2 separate regions of the Homo sapiens genome follow, and region 1 is linked to region 2. The links come from fine-mapping of genetic effects on gene expression. A gene starts in region 2. The other region holds a variant in brackets. All regions are shown on one strand. Distances are from middle to middle. Region 1 holds the start of ARHGAP45 (Rho GTPase activating protein 45). Region 2 holds the start of CNN2 (calponin 2).

Region 1 (10,404 bases), 45 kb after region 2:
GCCGCCTCAGGCTGTTATCAGCAACGGGTGCCTGCGTCCTGCTGCCCAGCACGTCCGGTGGTCCAGAGTCACTGGAATGCAGCTTGGGAGGCGGGGCTGGGGACCTTAGCTAAGGGCAGGTCTGGGGCAACATGATATGGCCCACAGGGCTGCTGAGAGGTAACCAGGTGTCCTCAGCATATTCTGCCGATGGTGGGGTCCACACCACACTTTGGGGACCCCTGTGCAGGCAGCCCAGGACCAGGTGGACGTGGGGACCCAGACGGACGTGGGGACCCAGACGGACAGGGCCCGGTAACCTGGATTGTTCTGACTTCCTGGACGTCTTTGCCCCCAGGGTTTCGGTTCTGGGCCTCAGTTTCCCCACCTGTCCTCGACCTGACCCACTTCACGGGGCTGCAGGGCGGGTGATGGGGGGGACCCTACTCTGCCCGGCCCTGCTGGGGCCCGGCCACACCCTAGGGTCTGCAGGAGAGGCGGTGGAGCGGGCTTGCCTTCAGGGAAAAGGGGGCTGCAGGGGCGCAGCTTCGGCCTGTGCGTGTGTCTGGGGTCTGAGGGCGAGGCTCCAGGGGCTTGGTGGCGTCTGAGCGCGTGTGGAGGTCCGGGTCTCTGCGTGTCATCGTGCACGTGTCTGTGCACGCCCACTCGCGTCCGGGAGTGAGAGTCAGCGCCCTGCAGTCGGCCGCCCCGTGCCCGCCAGCGTCAGGCAGGGGCTCCCGGTCCCACCCCGCGAGCGGCGCGGCTCCGAGCTCCCGAAGGCGGAAGCGGGGGGCGCGGCCCGGGGCTGGGGGCGGGGCCTGCGACCTCACCTTCGCGCCCACTCCGCAGAGCCGCAGGCTGAGGCCGGGAAGGGTCGGGGGCGAGGCCGCGTCGCCGCCTCCCCGAAGCCTTTTCCTGTTGGGGGGAGGGCCCGCCAGTGACGGCCGGGCCTGTCACGTGGGCCTGACAGCTGGGGAGGGGGTGGCCGGCGACAATGTGGTCCCGAAGCGGCCAGCGCCGGGAGCTGCAGCGCTGAGACCCCCAGCCCGCCCCCTCGGGCTCCCGGCCGGGGCCCCATCATGTTCTCCAGGAAGAAACGAGAGCTCATGAAAACCCCTTCCATCTCGAAAAAGAACCGCGCGGGAAGCCCCAGCCCGCAGCCCTCGGGGGTGAGTGGAGCCCGGGTGAGACCCGGAGCTGACGCCGGGCCGCAGGGGGACAGGGACCCGCCCTGTGCTCGGGGCTCATGCTGGGGCGGCGGCTGGGGGCTCGTGCCAGCTACAGCCCCTACCGGGCGGGACGGCAGGGGCCACAGCAGAGAGGCCGGGACCCCGGCATTCAGCTCACGGTAGGGACCCTGGGAGTGGTGGCCGCCTCCCTCCACTCCATCCAGGGCTGGCCGCGGGGCCCAGGGAGCAGGAAGGGAGGGTGCCGGGTTGGGACGATGTTGTGTTTGGGCCGCTGCAGGTTGGGGGCTTAGGCAATCTGGGGGCTCTAGGGGCCGTTGAGATGGGAGGGCTGTGGCCTGGCCATTGGGCTGAAGGTTGACCGGGCAGCAGATCCTCTAATGGGATCCACCAGGTTCAGAGGTTGGGGAGTGTCCCCAGGCCTGGGGTGTCTACAAAGCTGGGGGGGGGGTCTACAGAGCTTGGGGGTCCGGGATGTCTACAAGGCCTGGGGCTGCCCATAGGCTCTGGGGTTCCATGGACCTTTAGGGGACAGACAGAGTCAGAAGTGTGTTCACTTAAAGCACCTGCGTTGTAGGAGCCTGAGGGGGGCTTGAAGGGCTGAGGACCCTCCCCACCCCCACCAGGAAGTGGGGACCCCCCTCCCGCGCCTCCCCGCAGGCCCCGCCCCGGCTGTGGTTTGGGCAAGGACCGTTGTTTGTGAAAGCTCTAGGGAAGAGGATGTTGGGTAACAGGTGGGGGGGTACACTACCAAATCTCGGCCCTGTGACCTCTGGCCTTTGACCCCTGTGGGGTCAGGGTGATGGTGGCCCTCCACAGCCCCACTTCATTTCTGGGGAAACTGAGGCCGTGTCCAGGCCGGAAAATCCCTTTAACGAGCTCCCCTCGGACCTGCCCAAGGAGCTGCCCAGGAAGGATGGGGCTGACGCGGTGTTCCCCGGACCAAGCCTGGAGCCGCCCGCTGGGTCCTCCGGCGTCAAGGCCACAGGGACCCTCAAGCGGCCCACCAGCCTGAGCCGCCACGCCAGCGCGGCTGGCTTCCCCCTGTCGGGTGCTGCCTCCTGGACACTGGGCCGGAGCCACCGGAGCCCACTGACAGCCGCCAGCCCGGGCGAGCTGCCCACCGAGGGTGCCGGCCCGGACGTCGTCGAGGACATCTCCCATCTGCTGGCGGACGTGGCCCGCTTCGCTGAGGGCCTTGAGAAACTTAAGGAGTGTGTGTTGCGTGACGGTGAGAGCCACGGGGACACCGAGGCCTGGGTGGAAGACAGAGCCAGACCCAAGGGAGGATGGAGGGAGGGACTTGGGGAGGCTCAGAAGGGAGGGAGGCTCAGATGGCAGGGAGGGCTGTGTGGAAGAGGCCATGACAGCTAAGGCTCTGAGGGATGTGTAGGAGTTTGGTGGGGGAGTCCCTGAGCGTACACTGGCTCAAGAGGGTGCCCACTTTATTTTTTTTAAAGGATCTGATGGCAATTAGGAGGGAAAGGCAGAGGAAATGTCCCATGCACAGGCTCAGAAACACGGAAACAGAGAATGCATTTGGGGGCCAAGGTGTGGGGTGCCGCTGGTGTAGGATGAAGGCATGACAACGCCAGGCAGAAGGGCAATGGGGAGCCATAGAAGGTGTTAGAGCACAGGACAGATGGGGGCAGATCTGTGTCTTGGAATGAAGCAAACTGGGGGTTGGCTGAGGTCTGGGTGGAGAGAGATTCAGGAGGCATGGCGAGGGGCAGGATGGGGTCATCAGGCGGCGGAGGTGCTGGGACCCAGCGGCCTGCAGGCCGGCAGTTCCGTTTTCTCCTCCACGCGGCCGCTGACAGCCCTGCTTCCTGCCGAGTTATTTTCATCTGCTTCCTGTTTGTCCCTGGCAGCCCAGGCGGGCACCTCATGTGCTGCCTTCAGCCCCCGGCTCCTCCCAGAAACCACAGTGCCAGGGTCATGCCAGGCGCTCTGATCTGCTCCCAGCAGCCGCCCATTTTACAGATGACGAAACTAAGTCTCTAGTGAGGCCCTGACCCCTGGCTCACCCAGCCAGGGCAGGGCAGAGCCAGGACTGGACCTCAAGTGGTGGAGTGGCCTCTGCACCTTCAGGGCACTAGTTGGGGAAGGCCCGGTCCCCACTGGGAGGAGTGGGAGCCCCCGGGTTATCTGGTCCCAGGGGCGGGGGCTAGGCTGCTTTCCTGGGGAAACCCTAATCTCGGTTCCTTTCCGATCCTGGCGCTTCCTTGGAGGCCTGGCCTGGGCGGGGCTCAGCTCCCAGGCTCCTGCAGGAGGTCTGAACTGGGCCAGCCAGGGTGGGGCACTTTTTTTTTTTTTTTTTTGATACAGGGTCTTGC[T/C]CTGTTGCCCAGGCTGGAGTCCAGTGGTGTGATTGAGGCTCACTGTTACCTTGAACTCCTGGGCTCAAGCCATCCTCCTACCTCTGCCTCCCGAGTACCTGAGACTACAGGCATGAGCCACTGCACCTGATTTATTTTATTTTATTTATTTTATTTGAGATGGTGAGATGGAGTCTCACTCTGTCGCCCAGGCTGGAGTGCAGTGGCGCGATCTCGGCTCATTGCAACCTTCCTCTCTCGGGTTCAAGTGATTCTTCTGCCTCAGGCTCCCGAGTAGCTAGGACTACAGGTGCGTGCCACCACACCTGGCTAATTTTTGTATTTTTAGTAGAGATGGGGTTTCACCATATTGGCCAGGTTGGTCTCAAACCCCTAACCTCGTGATCCGCATGCCTCAGCCTCCCAAAGTGCTGGGATTACAGCAGGCATGAGCCACCGTGCCCGGGCTTTTCTTTTTTTCTTTCTTTTTCTTTTCTTTTCTTTTTTTTTTTTTTTTTTTGAGACAGAGTCTCACTCTGTCACCCAGGCTGGAGTGCAGGGGCGAGATCTCAGCTCACTGCAACCTCCACCTCCTGGGTTCAAGTGGTTCTTCTGCCTCAGCCTCCCGAGTGGCTGGGATTGCAGGGGCGCGCCACCGTGCCCGGCTAATTTTTTTTCTTTCTTTTTTTTTTTTTTTTAGTAGAGATGGGGTTTCACCATTTTGGCCAGGCTGGTCTTGAACTCCTGATCTCAAGTGATCCACCCACCTCGGCCTCCCAAAGCGCCAGGATTACAGGCGTGAGCCATCGCGCCCGGCCAGTTTTTGTATTTTTTGTAGAGACCGGGGTCTCCCCATATTGCGCAGGCTGGTCTAGAACTCCCGAGCTAAAAACCGTTCTCCCGGCTCCGCCTCCCAAAGTGCTGGGATAACAGGCCTGATCCACCGCGCCCGGCTGGGGGCGCCTTCTGTGCGTCTCGGGGCCGCCCCAGGCCAGAGAAGACCCTGGCGGCTAGGATGTGGGCTCTAGTCCCGATGTTTCTCAGCTGCTGAGACCCTGGCAAGCCCCTTCCCTCTCTAGGTGTCAGGTGACTTATCTATAAAATGGGGCCACCTGCATGCAGCGATGGTTGTGGGGTCCACCCCACAGCTTGGGGACCCGCGTTCAGGCAGCTAGGAGGGGACCCACATGGACGGTGCCACCCCGACACTTCCCGGGCTTCCTCGTTCCCGGGCTTCAGGTCTGGGCCTCAGTTTCCCTGCCCGTCCTCGACCCTCCCCACCTCGAAGCTCTGCGGTTAAGGAAGGACCCAGGCTGGGGCGAACGGGACCCCAGGGCGGGGTTTCCCTCGCGGGGGCGGGGCCTCCTGACCGGCCGGAGCCGGTTTGGCCACCGGAGACCCCCATCGGTCAGCTGCCAGGCCCCACGCGCTCGCGGTCTCCGCGCCCCGACGGCTGCGCCATGTGTATCTGCGGGACGGCGCACCCGGTGCTGGACGAGGGCCCCGTGCGCTGCCGGGCGGGCCCCCGAGGTGAGGGGACAGGTGCCGGGCGCTGGGTCCCGCCGCGTCCGGGAGCACGTGGCGCTCGGGCCGTTTGCCGCCCGCGGTGGGGGAGCAGCGGCTGCCGCGCGCCTGGCCTGGCCGTGCGCACCTGGGCATCCCTGCGCTGCGCAGGGGTCGCGCCGGCCGCCGGCTTCCCGGGTAGGGGGTGTGCGGGGACAGCCGGGGGTCCGTGCGCCGGCCGCGCGCGGAGTGCCGGGTGCCCGGCTGGAAGGTCCCGAGAAGGGGCGTGGCCGGGGCCTCCCAGCGGCTTCCCGGAGCTCCTGGAGCCCCAATCCCATTCCCGGAGTCCGCCTCGCATCCAGCAGCGAAGACATGTTCCGGTCCGGGGTCTCAGGCCCGGCGGCGGCCAGCGGGGTATCTCTGGCGGGTGACTCGGTCGGTCTCTTCCCGGAGGTGACATTCACCTGGGGTCTTCGGTGCCGAAAGGGATGGGGCACTTACTTTTTCAGATTTCATTTCGTATTTGGGGCATCCTCTGAGCGGTACAGTCAGGCGTCAAAGCTGCCCCTCCCGCTGGCCTCTGTCCTCCCGGGTACCTTTCCCCTCCTACGAATTCCGTGGGTTTGTTTCCACTACGTGGTGTGTGCCTGGCTCTCGATGTTTCGCCTGTACTCTCTGCTTTTTTCTTTTCTTTCCTTCTTTTCTTTTCTTTCCTTTTCTTTCTTTCTTTTCTTTCCTTTCTTTTTGGGATGGAGGAGTCTCACTCTGTCACCCAGCTGGAGTGCAGTGGCGCGATCTCGGCTCACTGCAACCTCCGCCTCCCAGCTTCAAGCGATTCTCCTGCCTCAGCCTCCCGAGTAGCCGGCATTACAGAGGAGTGCCACCACGCTGCTACTTTTTGTATTTTTAGTAGAGGCAGGGTTTCGCCATGTTGGCCAGGATGGTCTCAAACTCCTGACCTCAAGTGATCTGCCTGCCTCGGCCTCACCAAGTGCTGGGATTACAGGCATGAGGCACTGTGCTTGGCCCTCTCTGCTTTTTTCTTCTTCCAATTGAGAACGTTCGATGAGGGCATTTAGCTTTTTATTCTTTATTTTATTTCTTACAGAGACAGGGTCTTACTGTATTGCCCAGGCTGGTCTTGAATTCCTGGGCTCAACCCGTCCTCCTGCCTCAGCCTCCCAAAGTGCTGGGGTCACAGGTGTAAGCCACCACCCCTGGCTGAGGAGGGCAGTGAAAGCCAGGTTCCAACAGTCAGATCTGACCTCCTCTGTTCTAACACCTTCTATGGCTCCCTATTGCCCTGGAGATAAAGCCAGGCAGGATCCCTCTGCCTGGCGTTCTCACGCCTTCAGAGCTAGCGTAGATGGAAAAGCTGTGTGATTGTTGAGAAATGGCTTCCCCTCTCTATGCCTCAGTTTCCTCACTTAGGAAGGGCAGAGAGAGACCTGGACAGGGCTTTGAGCAGTCCTGAGGAGTTAGGGCAGGGAAGGAGCCTGGTGGGCTGCATGGAGGAAGGGGCTGCAGGACTGTAGCTTGAAGGACAAGAGGCAGTTTGCTTTCTGGAGGGACAAGAAAAGAGTGTTCTGAGCAGCAGAGTGCCTAGGCCAACGTCTGGCCTTTGTTGATCTGGCCGGTAGCCCAGGGAGGGACAGTGCCCTCCCCGCGGTCTCGAAATGAGCCCCAGGCATCTGCCGTCTTCCACCTCTGCCTCAGTTTCCCCATCTGGGAACAGGAGCTCTAAAGAGGGAGGAGGTGGACAGACTTTCCCTGGGACTGGGCCCTACCCCACTGCTCACTCCGACTCTCCCCAGCAGACCTCCTTGAGGCCCGCCGCCCGCGGGCCCACGAGTGCCTGGGTGAGGCTCTGCGTGTCATGCATCAGATCATCTCCAAGTACCCGCTGCTGAACACCGTGGAGACGCTCACCGCAGCCGGCACCCTCATTGCCAAGGTCAAAGGTCAGCCTGCTGGAACAGGGCTGCGAGGGCTCTCTGCCTAGAAGGGCATCCTGGAGGAGGGGATGTTTGAAGTGGGTTTTGAAGGATGCATAGGAGTTTGACAGGCACAAGCTCCCTCCTGTTCCCCCTGGGTTAAGGGCTCCGGTCAGTTCTTGCAGGGATGGTCACCTCCCAGAGTGGGCCCACCTCCTTGTCCTTATCTCTGCTTCCCAGCCTTCCATTATGAGAGCAACAATGATCTGGAGAAACAGGAGTTCGAGAAGGCCCTGGAGACGATTGCTGTGGCCTTCAGTAGCACGTGAGCACGGGAGCCTGTGGGGCAGGGCAAGGGAGCGTGGGGGGCCCGGGTGTCTCTCGATGGTGACCTCGCTGGCCCTGCAGAGTGTCCGAGTTCCTCATGGGTGAAGTGGACAGCAGCACCCTCCTAGCAGTGCCTCCTGGGGACTCGAGCCAGGTGAGTGGGGTGGGCCAGGGCCACCTGTGTCCAGCTTCTGGAGGCCAGCCGGGTTCAGGTCTGCAGGGCCCAGACAGTCACCCTGCTTCCCCTGTGCGCCTTGGTTTCCCTCTCTGGGGGAGGCAGCAACCGTCCCCTGAAGGGTGGGCACTGCCCAGGGCCCCGCATGGGGCTGGTCTCACCTGCGTCTCCGTCCTACAGTCCATGGAAAGCCTGTATGGACCGGGCAGTGAGGGCACGCCTCCCAGCCTGGAAGACTGTGACGCCGGTAAGCCCCCACCCAGCGGCAGGCAGGCATTTGAGGGGTGGGCCATTGCGCGGGTCGGGCCAGGCTGAGCAGGCCCCCGTTCCCTGCAGGCTGCCTGCCCGCCGAGGAGGTGGACGTGCTGCTACAGCGCTGTGAGGGGGGCGTGGATGCCGCACTGCTGTATGCCAAGAACATGGCCAAGTACATGAAGGACCTCATCAGCTACCTGGAGAAGCGGACGACGCTGGGTGAGAGCTGGTGTCCCAGCAGGGTGGGTCTGGAGGGAGGGGGTTCTGGGTGAGCTGGGAAGGCCTTGTCCCAGCACCTCACACCCCTCTCCGGCCCGCAGAGATGGAGTTTGCCAAGGGCCTGCAGAAGATCGCTCACAACTGCAGACAGAGCGTCATGCAGGAGGTGGGGGCCCCGCGGGCACGGGGCGGGGGTCCCTGGGCCCGGGTGTGAGTCTCAGCCCCATTTCAAGGGCCCAGGGACCAAGAGCAGGGGCTTCCCCTCTACATTAACGGGGGTGGCTGCAGGGACCAGGGAGCTGGTGGCTGGGGGTGCTGGGGCCGCCCTGCCTCCATCCCTCCCCACCCAGTGAGCCGGTGCCCCACCCACAGCCCCACATGCCGCTCCTGTCCATCTACTCGCTGGCCCTGGAGCAGGACCTGGAGTTCGGCCACAGCATGGTGCAGGCGGTGGGCACCTTGCAGACCCAGACCTTCATGCAGGTGCGTGGTGCCCGGGAGGGCGGGCTGGGCGGGGGTGTCACCGGGGTACCCACTCACGGCCCGTCTCGCCCCAGCCCCTGACCCTGCGGCGGCTTGAACACGAGAAGCGCAGGAAGGAGATCAAGGAGGCCTGGCACCGTGCCCAGAGGAAGCTGGTGAGGCGGGCGGGCGGGGGCGGGCGGGGGCGGGCAGCGGGCCTCGGCGCAGGCGCAGTCCCAGCCCCAGCCCCATAGCGAGGGCCCTGCGGCGAGCTCCGCACACGCCCCGGCCTCCTGCGCATGCGCGGCCTCGCAGGCTGGGCCGCCCCCCCCAACGCCAAGCCGGGTCGGAGATGCTCCAGCCCCGTCGCCCCCAGCTCTGCCTGGAAGGACCCAGGAGCCCGGCGCTCACTGCTGTCCCTGCAGAAATGGGGAGAAGCCGTGCCTCCCTCGGTTGTAAGCAGCTGGTCTCCGGGTTGAGGGAGACTGATGGTCTCTCAGGACTGGGAAAGCGCCATGCTCCTGCATGTATTCTTTTTTTTTTTTTTTTTGATACGGAGTCTCGCTCTGTCGCCCAGGCTGCAGGCTGGAGTGCCATGGCACCATCTAGGCTTTCACTGCAACCTCCATCTCCCTGGTTCAAACAATTCTCCTGTCGCAGCGTCCCGAGTAGCTGGGATTACAGAAGCACGCCACCACACCTGGCTAATTTTTGTATTTTTAGTAGAGACGGGGTTTCACCATAGTGGTCAGGCTGGTCTCGAACTCCTGACCTCAGGTGATCCACCCGCGTCGGCCTCCCAAAGTGCTGAGATTACAGACGTGAGCCACCGCACCCACCCGGCCTCCTGCCTGTATTCTCTTCCCACTTCGCTTTTGGGTTATTTCAAAGACGCCGGCGCCTTTTTGTTTGTTTCTTTGCTTGTTTTGAGATAAGGTCTCGCTCTGTCACCCAGGCTGGACTGCAGTGACGCAATCATACCTCACTGCAGACTTGCCTTCTTGGGCTGCAATGATCCTCCCACCTCAGCCTCCTGAGTTCCTGGGTCTACAGGCACCAGCCATCACACCCAGTTCATTTTTTTGTATTTTTTGTATACTCACTATGTTGCCCAGTTTTTGTTTGCTTTTTAGCTGTGTTAACACGGTCTGCAGTGAAACGCACCCTCCTAGCTCCTTCCAGCACATACCGGCAAACACATATCTGCCCTGTTTTGTACACACGAGGACAGCTCACCTCATGCCCTGTTCTGCTCCTGATTTTTATCCTCACCTCCATATAGAGAGGCTCACCCGATATCAGTCAGCATGAAGCAGCCTGAACCCCTTTTTTCGGCTGTGCAGGGCTCAGCTGAGGAGATTGAGTAGGTTATTTCATGGACGTCTTGGGAGTGGCTGAGCTGTTGCTGTTACGAACACCATTGCTATGACAAGCTTGTGCCCCTGTCTCAAGGATGCCTGAGGGATCAGTGCCCAAAATAGAACTGCTGGGTCAAGGGGCGTGCGTGTATGAGCTACCCTCCCAGGCCACAGCCCTGCTTTTCCTCTTCTGTGAACCCTCAGTTCTTAACCTTTGCTTAGTTCTTATCCTTTGCTTACTTTGTACTGGACAGTGGCTTATCATTGATTTGTCAGAGCTTTTTACATATTAGAGAACTTAGGCCTTAATCATGTGAGTTTTAGACTCCCCCCATTCCCCTCCCACAATTTACTGTTTGACTTTTGATTTTTACCTGTGGCCTATTTTGCCAGGTAGAAACCTGTGATTGTTGGCAGTAGTCTTTTTTTTTTTTTTTTTTTTTTTTTTTTTTGAGACAAGAGCCTCACTCTGTTGCCCAGGCTGCAGTGCAGTGGATCGATCTCAGCTCACTGCAACCTCCATCTCCTGGGCTCAAGCGATTCTTCTGCCTCAGCCTCCCAAGTAGCTGGGATTACAGGCGCCAGCCAACATGCCTGGCTAATTTTTGTATTTTTAGTAGAGATGGGGTTTCACCACCTTGGCCAGGCTGGTCTCGAACTCCTGACCTCAGGTAATCTGCCCACCTTGTC
Region 2 (9,123 bases):
ACTTTAGGTGATTTGCCCGCCTAGGCCTCCCAAAGTGCTGGGATTACAGGTGTGACCCACCAAGCCCGCCAAAAAAAAGTTTTGTGTTGTTTTTTTTTTTTGAGACGCAGTCTCACTCTGTCGCCCAGGCTGGAGTGCAGTGGCGTGATCTCGGCTCACTGCAACCTCCGCCTCTTGGGTTCAAGCAATTCTCTGCCTCAGCCTCCTGAATAGCTGGGATTGCAGGCTTCCGCCACCACACCCGGCTATTTTTTTTGTATTTTTAGTGGAGACCAGGTTTGATCATCTTGGCCAGGTTGGTATTGAACTCCTGACCTCGTGATCCACCCGCGTCAGCCTCCCAAAGTGCTGGAGTTACAGGCATGAGCCACCGCGCCCGGCCCCCCCAAAAAAATGTTTTTAAAAGTTAACTGAGGACGTTGGTGCATGCCTGTAATTCCAGCTACTTGGGAGGCTGAGGTGGGAGGACTGCTTGAGCCCAGGAGTTGGAGGCTGCAGTGAGCCATGATCGTATCCCTGCGCTCCAGGTTGGATGACTAAGTGAGACCCTGTCTCTAAAAAATAAAGTGTAAAAAAGCCAACAGTCAGTATTTTTAGCTTTTTTGGGTAGAGTAACTACTCCACTCTGCTGTTGTACAGAAAACGCAGCCGTAAATGATACATAAATGGATGGGCACAGCTGTGTGCCAATAAAGCTTTGTCTGCAGACACTGGAATTTGAATGTTATGTAATTTCCACGTTTGATAGAATGGTTTTCATATTTTGGGTTTTTTTTTCAACCACTTAAAAATGTAAGAGCCATTCTTAGCTCACAAGCCATACAAAAATAGGCTGCAGCTGGATTTGGCCCACAGGTCAAGAACACAGCTTTCCAAGAGAAAGATAAGCAAATAACAAACATAACTTTAAGTGTTCTGGTAGCCACAGTAAAACAACTAAAAAAGAGCAAGTGAAATTAATTTTAATAATATATTTTACACATCTCAAGTTATCCAAACAAGGTCAGGCGCGGTGGCTCATGCCTGTAATCTCAGCACTTTTGGAGGCTGAGGCGGGAGGATCATTTCAGCCCAGGTGTTCAAGACCAGCCTGGGCAATATAATGAGATCCTGTCTCTACGAAAAATACCAAAAATTAGCTGGGCACGGTGGTGTGTGCCTGTGGTCCCAGCTACTTGGGAGGCTGAGGCAAGAGGATTGCTTAAGCCAAGGAGTTGGAGGCTGCAGTGAGCTGTGATGGCACCATTGCACTCCAGCCTGGGCAACAGAGCAAGACCCCACCTCATAAACGAAAAAAAAGTGGCCGGGCGCGGTGGCTGACACCTGTAATCCCAGCACTTGGGAGGCCGAGGCGGGCGGATCACGAGGTCAGGAGATCGAGACCACCCTGGCAAACACGGTGAAACCCTGTCTCTACTAAAAATACAAAAATATTAGCTGGGTGTGGTGGCGGGCGCCTGTAGTCCCAGCTGCTCGGGAGGCTGAGGCAGAAGAATGGCCTGAACCCGGGAGGCGGAGCTTGCAGTGAGCCGAGATCACGCCACTGCACCCCAGCCTGGGTGACAGAGCGAGACTACTTCTCAAAAAAAAAAAAAAAAAAAAAGTAACTGAGATGTACCAAGTCTTCAGAATCTGGTGTGTTTCCCATCCATGGGGTGTTCCAATATGGATACCAGTGCTTCCTCAGAAATACTTATCTCCACAGTATTTAGATTTACAGCGTTTATACTGAAAAGGAAAATTCAGAAACGCTAAGGTATTTAAAATATACACGAGGCTGAGCACGGTGGCTCACGCCTGCAATCCCAGCACTTTGGGAGGCTGAGGCGGGAGGATCACTTGAATCCAGACTGGGCAACATAGGGAGACCCCATCTCTACAAAAAATTTAAAAATTAGCTAGGCATATGGCACATGCCTGTAGTCCCAGATACTCAGGAGGCTGAGGCAGGAGATTACTTGAGTCCAGGAGGTCGAGGCTGCAGTGAACTATATTTGCACCACTGCACTCCAGCCTGGGTGACAGAGCAAGACCCTGTTTCAAATATCTATATATTTACATTTATATGTATAATGTGTACATATGTGTGTATTTATGTATTTGAAAACTTTAATGTGTGTGTACATATATATATAGTCAAAAACGGAAATCATGTCAGTTTTTAATTTTTAACTGAAATTAATTGAAATAGCCCGGCCACGGCAGCTGACACCTATAATCCCAGCACTTCGGAAGGCTGAGGCCGGCGGATCACTTGAGGTCAGGAGTTCAAGACCAGCCTGGCCAACATGGTGAAACCCGCATCTCTACTAAAAATGCAAAAATTAGCCAGGCGTGGTGGTGCGTGTCTACGGTCCCAGCTACTCGGAGTCCCAGCTACATATATATGTGTATTTATATATATGTGTCTTCAAAAAATGGAATCTAGTGCCAGTTTTTAATTTTTAATTGAAATTTAAGAATAGGAAGTATTTGCTGGGTGCGGTGGCTCACACCTGTAATCCCAGCACTTTGGGAGGCTGAGGCGGGCAGATCACGAGGTCAGGAGATCGAGACCATCCTGGATAACACAGTGAAACCCCGTCTCTACTAAAAATACAAAAATTAGCTGGGTGTGGAGGTGTGCCTGTAGTCCCAGCTGCTGGGGAGGCTGAGGCAGGAGAATGGCGTGAACCCAGGAGGTGGAGCTTGCAGTGAGCCAAGATTGCGCCACTGCACTCCAGCCTGGGTGACAGAGCGAGACTCCGTCTCAAAAAATAATAATAAAATAAAATAAAAAGAACATGAAGTATTTGCTTCCCTGATGGCACCAGCCACACTTCCAGTGCTCAGTAGCCCCATGGCCAGTGGCTACAGTAGTAGATAGTGCCACATTGAAAATTTCCTTCATCTCAGAATAACAGAAATGGTCAGCACTGGTCTAAAATGACATGGGTCGGCCAGGTGCAGTGGTTCAAGCCTGTAATCACAGTACTTTGGGAGGCTGAGGCGGGTGGATCACCTGAGGTCAGGGGTTCGAGACCAGCCTGGCCAACATGGTGAAACCCCATCTCTACTAAAAATAAAATAAAATAAAATAAAATAAAATAAAATAAAATAAAATAAAATAAAATGTGTCAAACTCCTATTGATGCTTCAAAACCCCATCTCCCTTGCCTCCTCTTACATGCAGCTTTCCTTGATTCCTCCGACAGAGCCCCAACTCTCCCTCCAGTTCCTCCAGCCCCAAGCCTCTCATTCTGTCCTGTACTTGCTCATATAGGGAAACAGGGTGGGCGGGGTGGGGGGGTTCCGCCTGTGCTGGCTCATACAGGGAATCCGGGTTGGGGGTTGGTCTGTGCCAGCTCTGTCTTCCTGGGCATGGGCTGGGCCAGAGCTAAGGTCTCCTGAGAGCCAGCACTGCCTGGCAGGAGACTGTCCCGGAGACTTTTTAATAATTTATTATTATTAGGGTTTTTTTGTGTTTTTTTTTTTTGTTTTTTTTTTTAAGACGGAGTCTTGCTCTGTCGCCCAGGCTGGAGTGCAGTGGCGCGATCTCGACTTACTACAACCTCCGCCTCCTGGCTTCAAGTGATCCTCCCACCTCAGCCTCCTCAGTAGCTGGAATTACAGGCATGTGCCCCCATGCCCGGCTAATTTTTGTATTTTTAGTAGAGACGGAGTTTCGCCATGTTAGCCAAGCTGGTCTGGAACTCCTGACCTCAAGTGATCCGCCCGCCTCGGCCTTCCAAAGTGCTGGGATTGCAGGCGTGAGCCACTCGGATTTTTATTTTTATTTATTTATTTATTTTTAGAGAGAGGCTCTTGCTCTGCTGCCCAGGCTGGAGCGTCATGTTGTGATGATAACTCACTGCAGCTTCGACCTCTTGGGCTCAACGGATCCTCCCCCTTCGGCCTCAGCCTCCCAAGTAGCTAGAACTCCAGGTGCAAGCTACCGCACCCAGTAAGAATCCTATTCTCTTTTGGACTGACAAACTCCTACTCATCCAACAAAGCCCCAGCTCCAATGGCCCCTTCTCTGAGGAACCTGCCCTGGTTCCCTGGTCCACCTCCCAGCTAGTAGAGTTCCCTGGGAAGGGGTTAGACGCCTCTAAGTGGCAGAGAGGGGCCCTCATTCCTGCCCCAAAGGTAGCCTTCTCCCCTCCCCTTTCTGGCAGAAGAGAAGTCTGAGATGGAGAAAGAGTGAGAGCCGCCCACGAGCTCTGAGCAGAGAGCCCGCAGGAGTGCCACGTCCCGGCGGCCTCGGCCCCTCCCTGCCTCAGTTTCCCGTGGCATCAAAGGGGGCGAGGGGCCCCTCCAGGCCTCTGGTGACGGGGGTGCTGTGCCCAGGCGGGGGTCCGGGGGCGACCGAGGGGGCTCAGGAAGTCCGCGGCCGCAGGAATTCGGCGCCTCCAGGCCTTATAAGGACATTTGCGCTCCGGGCCAATCAGCGGCGGGGGCGTGGCGCGCGGAGCCCGGCGCGTCCCAACCCCGCGCCAGCCCGGCGGTCCCGTCCCGTCCCGTCCTGTGCGGCCCCGTCCCGCCGCCCGCCCGCCAGCCATGAGCTCCACGCAGTTCAACAAGGGCCCCTCGTACGGGCTGTCGGCCGAGGTCAAGAACCGGGTGAGTGAGGGGCGCCCCTTGTCCCCCCGACAGCGCGGCCGTCGCACGCTCCGACCGGTGCAGGAGCCCCCAGGCGCCCCCGGCACCTCCCGGGCAGGGAGCTTGGAGACCCGGGGCGGACGGGCCCTTGTTCTCCCTGACGCCTGGTGGGGGGATGTCTGCGGGCACCCCCTGAGGCTCCCGCGAATCTTGGGGAGCACCCAGGTCTGAGATCTGGGGGACGAGTGACCCATTCCCCCCCCCAACATCTAGGGGTAGTTGGGTCTGACTTCGTCCCCTCGCCATGGCCCCAGGACCCCCACGTGTGAAGCCCCTGGCGCCCACTCAACCTTCGAGAAGGTCCGTTCAAGGTCCGACAACGCTCTGGGGGTCTGGGGGGGACCCCAGCAACCCCGTCATCTCCTGGCCACACTTCTGCTTTTGGGGCCTCTTAGCTTTGGGAGGGGAAGGGGCATGGCCGAGTGGTTTTTGAGAAGTGTTACCCCCCCACAAACAGGAATTTCCTGGCCTCTGGGACACCTTGGGGGTGTCTTGGGGGGAGGGGCGGTAGCCGCTTTGCACGGTCTTTGTCTCCCATCTGACTAATTTAAACGGATAACAAAGAGGTTCTCTGAAGGTGGCCCTGAGATATGTGGGGTTTTGCAGCCTCGAAAGAAGAGCTGGGGCCCGGCAGGGCGCGGGGGCTCACGCCCGTAATCCCAGCACTTTGGGGGGCGGAGCTGGGTGGATGGCTTGAGCCCAGCGAGTTCGAGACCAGTCTGGGCAACATGGCGAAACCCCATCTCTATAATTAAAAACAAGCCAGGGCTAGGGGAGACACTTTTTAAGAGAGCACTTGTGGTTCTAGCTCAGAGAGGACCAGACACTTCTGCAGGGTCACACAGCAGGGTCCTGGACAGGATTCCCAGGGAAAGTGGGGGGCGGGGGTTGTGATGCGAGACCCACGGACAGGACCGGGACCTGACCCTCCAGGACCTTCCAGCTGGAGGGGGGTGTCGTCCCCGCCCACCCCCTCCCCCGACGCCCACTGGGCACCTGGGAAGGTGTCCTTACAGCTGACTTCTGCAGGGGAAACTGCCTCTGCACGCTCTGAGGGCACCGGCCCTGCCAGCCCCAACAGCCACCTGCCCGGCGGCACTCCAGGGCCGGCAGACTGGAGGGAGAATTCCTGCTTCCCCGCTGTGAGCCCCTGCAAGCCTTCAGACCAGCTCTTGGCCAAAAAGGGAGGCTGAGGCTTGGGGTGGTCAAGGCCTGAGCCAGGGTCCCCAGCCCGGGGCTCACGACTCCTCCTTCAAGGGGCCATCTGCACCCTGCATTCATAGAGCCCCCCGTGCAGTGGGGTGGGCACCCTGCCGCACCCTGCATACAGCCGGCTAAGGGCACCGGTGTCCACAGGGACCCAGAGACGTCGTTCCAGCTGCCCAGGGCCACACAGCCCACAAGTGACAGGGCCAAGACCGGAACCCAGTACCTGCTGGGCCTGCGGAAGTGGGAGCGGGCACAGGAGGGTGGGGCGGCTTCCGGAGACGGGGTGGGGTGGGGTGGGGGCAGGTTGATACCTGCCCTGGCGGGGGTGAGGACAGAGGCTGGAAGAGCCGCTTAGCAGGCTCCCCGCGCAACCCTCAGTCTGTCCGTTTGGAGGGTGGGCGAGGCGTCGGCCAGCTTGCCAGGGTCACGGAAGGGTCGCCTCCCAATTAGAAACCAGCTTCCCCCTGGCTTCCCGCTCACACCCGCTTTACCGGCTGCTTGAAACAGCCAGAGACCCGCCCCCCGCCCCGCTTCCCCGTGGCTCAGTTGACTCCCGGCTGGACGGCACGGAGGCAGCTCGGATCCACAGTGTCTGCGGCCTTGCATCCCGGCTTGGGGGTCCGGACCCGCTGGGAACAGCTGGTTCAGATTTAGCCGGGGAGGCAGCGCGCATTCCTGGCAGTTTGTGGTGAACAGGAATGTGCTGGAAGGCCGGCGGCCGGGCAGCGGGGGGGCGGGGGTGGGGGAGGACGGCAGCGGCTGGGGGTGGGGCCAGGGGACCTGGGCCCCTGAGCCGGCAGAGACGCGGCGCAGCTGGGCAAGGCAGGGCTGTGTACCCAGCAGCCACCGTTCTCATTCCTCGGGATCAAAGTTGCCGGCGGGGCGGGGCTGCCCCCGGGCGTGGAAAGCCAAGCTGGGTGGGCTGTGAGCTGGTACTGGGGGGCCTCCCCGCCTTTGCCTCCTCTGGGCTACGAGCTGTTTCCAGGCAGGTGCCAGGTCAGGGGACCCTAACCCAAATAATCCCAGGCAGGTCCAGGTCAGGGGACCCTATCCCAAATAATCCCAGGCAGGTCCAGCTCAGGGGACCCTAACCCAAATCATCCCAGGCAGGTCCAGCTCAGGGGACCCTAACCCAAATCATCCCAGGCAGGTCCAGCTCAGGGGACCCTAACCCAAATCATCCCAGGCAGGTCCAGCTCAGGGGACCCTACCCAAATCATTCCAGGCAGATCTAGCTCAGGGGACCCTAACCCAAATCATCCCAGGCAGGTCCAGCTCAGGGGACCCTAACCCAAATCATCCCAGGCAGGTCCAGCTCAGGGGACCCTAACCCAAATCATCCCAGGCAGGTCCAGGTCAGGGGACCCTACCCAAATCATCCCAGGCAGGTCTAGCTCAGGGGACCCTAACCCAAATCATCCCAGGCAGGTCCAGCTCAGGGGACCCTAACCCAAATCATCCCAGGCAGGTCCAGCTCAGGGGACCCTAACCCAAATCATCCTAGGCAGGTCCAGCTCAGGGGACCCTAACCCAAATCATCCCAGGCAGGTCCAGCTCAGGGGACCCTAACCCAAATCATCCCAGGCAGGTCCAGGTCAGGGGACCCTAACCCAAATAATCCCAGGAAGAGATGAGGAAGCGGAGGCTGAGTGGGGAGCTGTCCGCGGGAACCTGGGGAGATGGGTGCAGAGCAGGGAGAGGGATTTGATTTTTTTTTTCCTTCTCTCTTTTCTTTCTTTTTTTTTTTAAGACAGAGGCTCACTCTGTTCCAGGCTGGAGTGAAGTGGCCCGATCTTGGCTCACTGCCTCCTCTGCCTCCTGGGTTCAAGCGATTCTCCTGCCTCAGCCTCCCAAGTAGCTGGGACTACAGGTGCCCACCACCACGCCCAGCTCATTTTTGTATTTTAGTACAGACGGGATTTCACCATGTGGGCTAGGCCAGTCTCGAACTCCTGACCTCAGATGATCCGCCCGCCTTGGCCTCCCAAAGTGCTGGGATTGTAGGTGTGAGCCACCGCACCCAGCCCAAACCCTACTTTATTCTCCCTCCAGCGTTTATCTCCCGCTCCCGCTACACGACCTGCCCCCATGCTTATGGCCCCCTATACACTTTGCCGTCTGCCTCAGTGCTGTCTCCGCGGTCACTAGTGGCTGGATAGGGACACTCGAGGTCCCCACTGGTGCACACCCACTGCCCAGGAGCACACAGCCCATTCCCCACGGCGGTGTCTCAGAGCACCGAAGGCCAAGAAAGCTGGAATGGCCGGGTGCAGAAAGGTGGCAGGGAATCGGTGGCAAGGAGCCAGGTGCGTGACTAGAGGCGGTCAGCCTCGGGGGCAGCTCCTTCGGGAGTTGCTAAGAAGCAGGATGGGGGCCGGGCGCGGTGGCTCACACCTGTAATCCCAGCACTTTGGAGGGCTGAGACGGGCAGATCACGAGGTCAGGAGATGGAGACCATCTTGGCTAACACGGTGAAACCCCGTCTCTATTAAAAATACAAAAAATGAGCTGGGCCTGGTGGCGGGCGCCTGCAGTCCCAGCTACTCGGGAGGCTGAGGCAGGAGAATGGCCTGAACCGGGGAGGCGGAGCTTGCAGTGAGCCGAGATCGCACCACTGCACTCCAGCCTGGGCGACAGAGTGAGACTCTGTCTCAAAAAAAATAAAAAAGAAAAAAGAGCTGATGGTTGCACAACATTGCAGACGTACGAAATGCTGTGAAATGGTGCGGTTTCAGGTGGTTGAAGTGGTAAACGTCAGGTGTGATATAGCGGGGAGGTGAGAAGGCAGGGCGGGGAGGCAGATCCGGCCAGGTTTGTCCTGCACCGGGAGTGGATTAGAGCTGATGTTTATCAGTGAGTTCTAAGCCGGTTGTCGGCCTGCTTGGAGGGCGGTTTATCTGTGCCCGCCTGCAGTGGCTGGGGCGCCCCCAATGATGGGAAAAGGGAGCATCTGCGTGGGTGTGGTGAGGGGGGACCTCCAGGCCGCTCTATCTGCTGTTGCCCTGGAGTCCCCGGCCCCACCCTCTGCAGAGCTTCTGTGGGGTTCCTGCTGGGGGTGCCCCCAGCCCAGCTCAGTCTCGTGCCCTTTGCTCCACCAGCTCCTGTCCAAATATGACCCCCAGAAGGAGGCAGAGCTCCGCACCTGGATCGAGGGACTCACCGGCCTCTCCATCGGCCCCGACTTCCAGAAGGGCCTGAAGGATGGAACTATCTTATGCACGTGAGTACACGCAGGGACACAGGCTGTCTCACACTTAACAAATCTTGGTTTTT

Evidence for each region.
Region 1: its variant is fine-mapped to the expression of CNN2 in whole blood (INTERVAL, PIP above 0.99).

The regions. Positions count from the first base shown.
Region 1 is chr19:1,066,348-1,076,751 of GRCh38, forward strand. It overlaps ARHGAP45 (Rho GTPase activating protein 45), which reads left to right and starts at 820. Exons shown (of 23, transcript NM_012292.5): 1 at 820-1,148; 2 at 2,067-2,397; 3 at 6,802-6,945; 4 at 7,159-7,243; 5 at 7,327-7,399; 6 at 7,601-7,667; 7 at 7,757-7,894; 8 at 7,996-8,060; 9 at 8,267-8,377; 10 at 8,452-8,532. The coding sequence starts at 1,059. RefSeq lists enhancers at 263-769, 2,960-3,119, 9,123-9,417 and silencers at 630-1,389, 1,700-1,939, 2,470-2,569, 8,102-8,211, 8,222-8,751. The variant T/C (reference allele first, on the strand shown) is at 3,503.
Region 2 is chr19:1,022,123-1,031,245 of GRCh38, forward strand. It overlaps CNN2 (calponin 2), which reads left to right and starts at 4,486. Exons shown (of 7, transcript NM_004368.4): 1 at 4,486-4,602; 2 at 8,949-9,070. The coding sequence starts at 4,540. RefSeq lists an enhancer at 3,412-4,143 and silencers at 4,134-4,773, 6,263-6,438.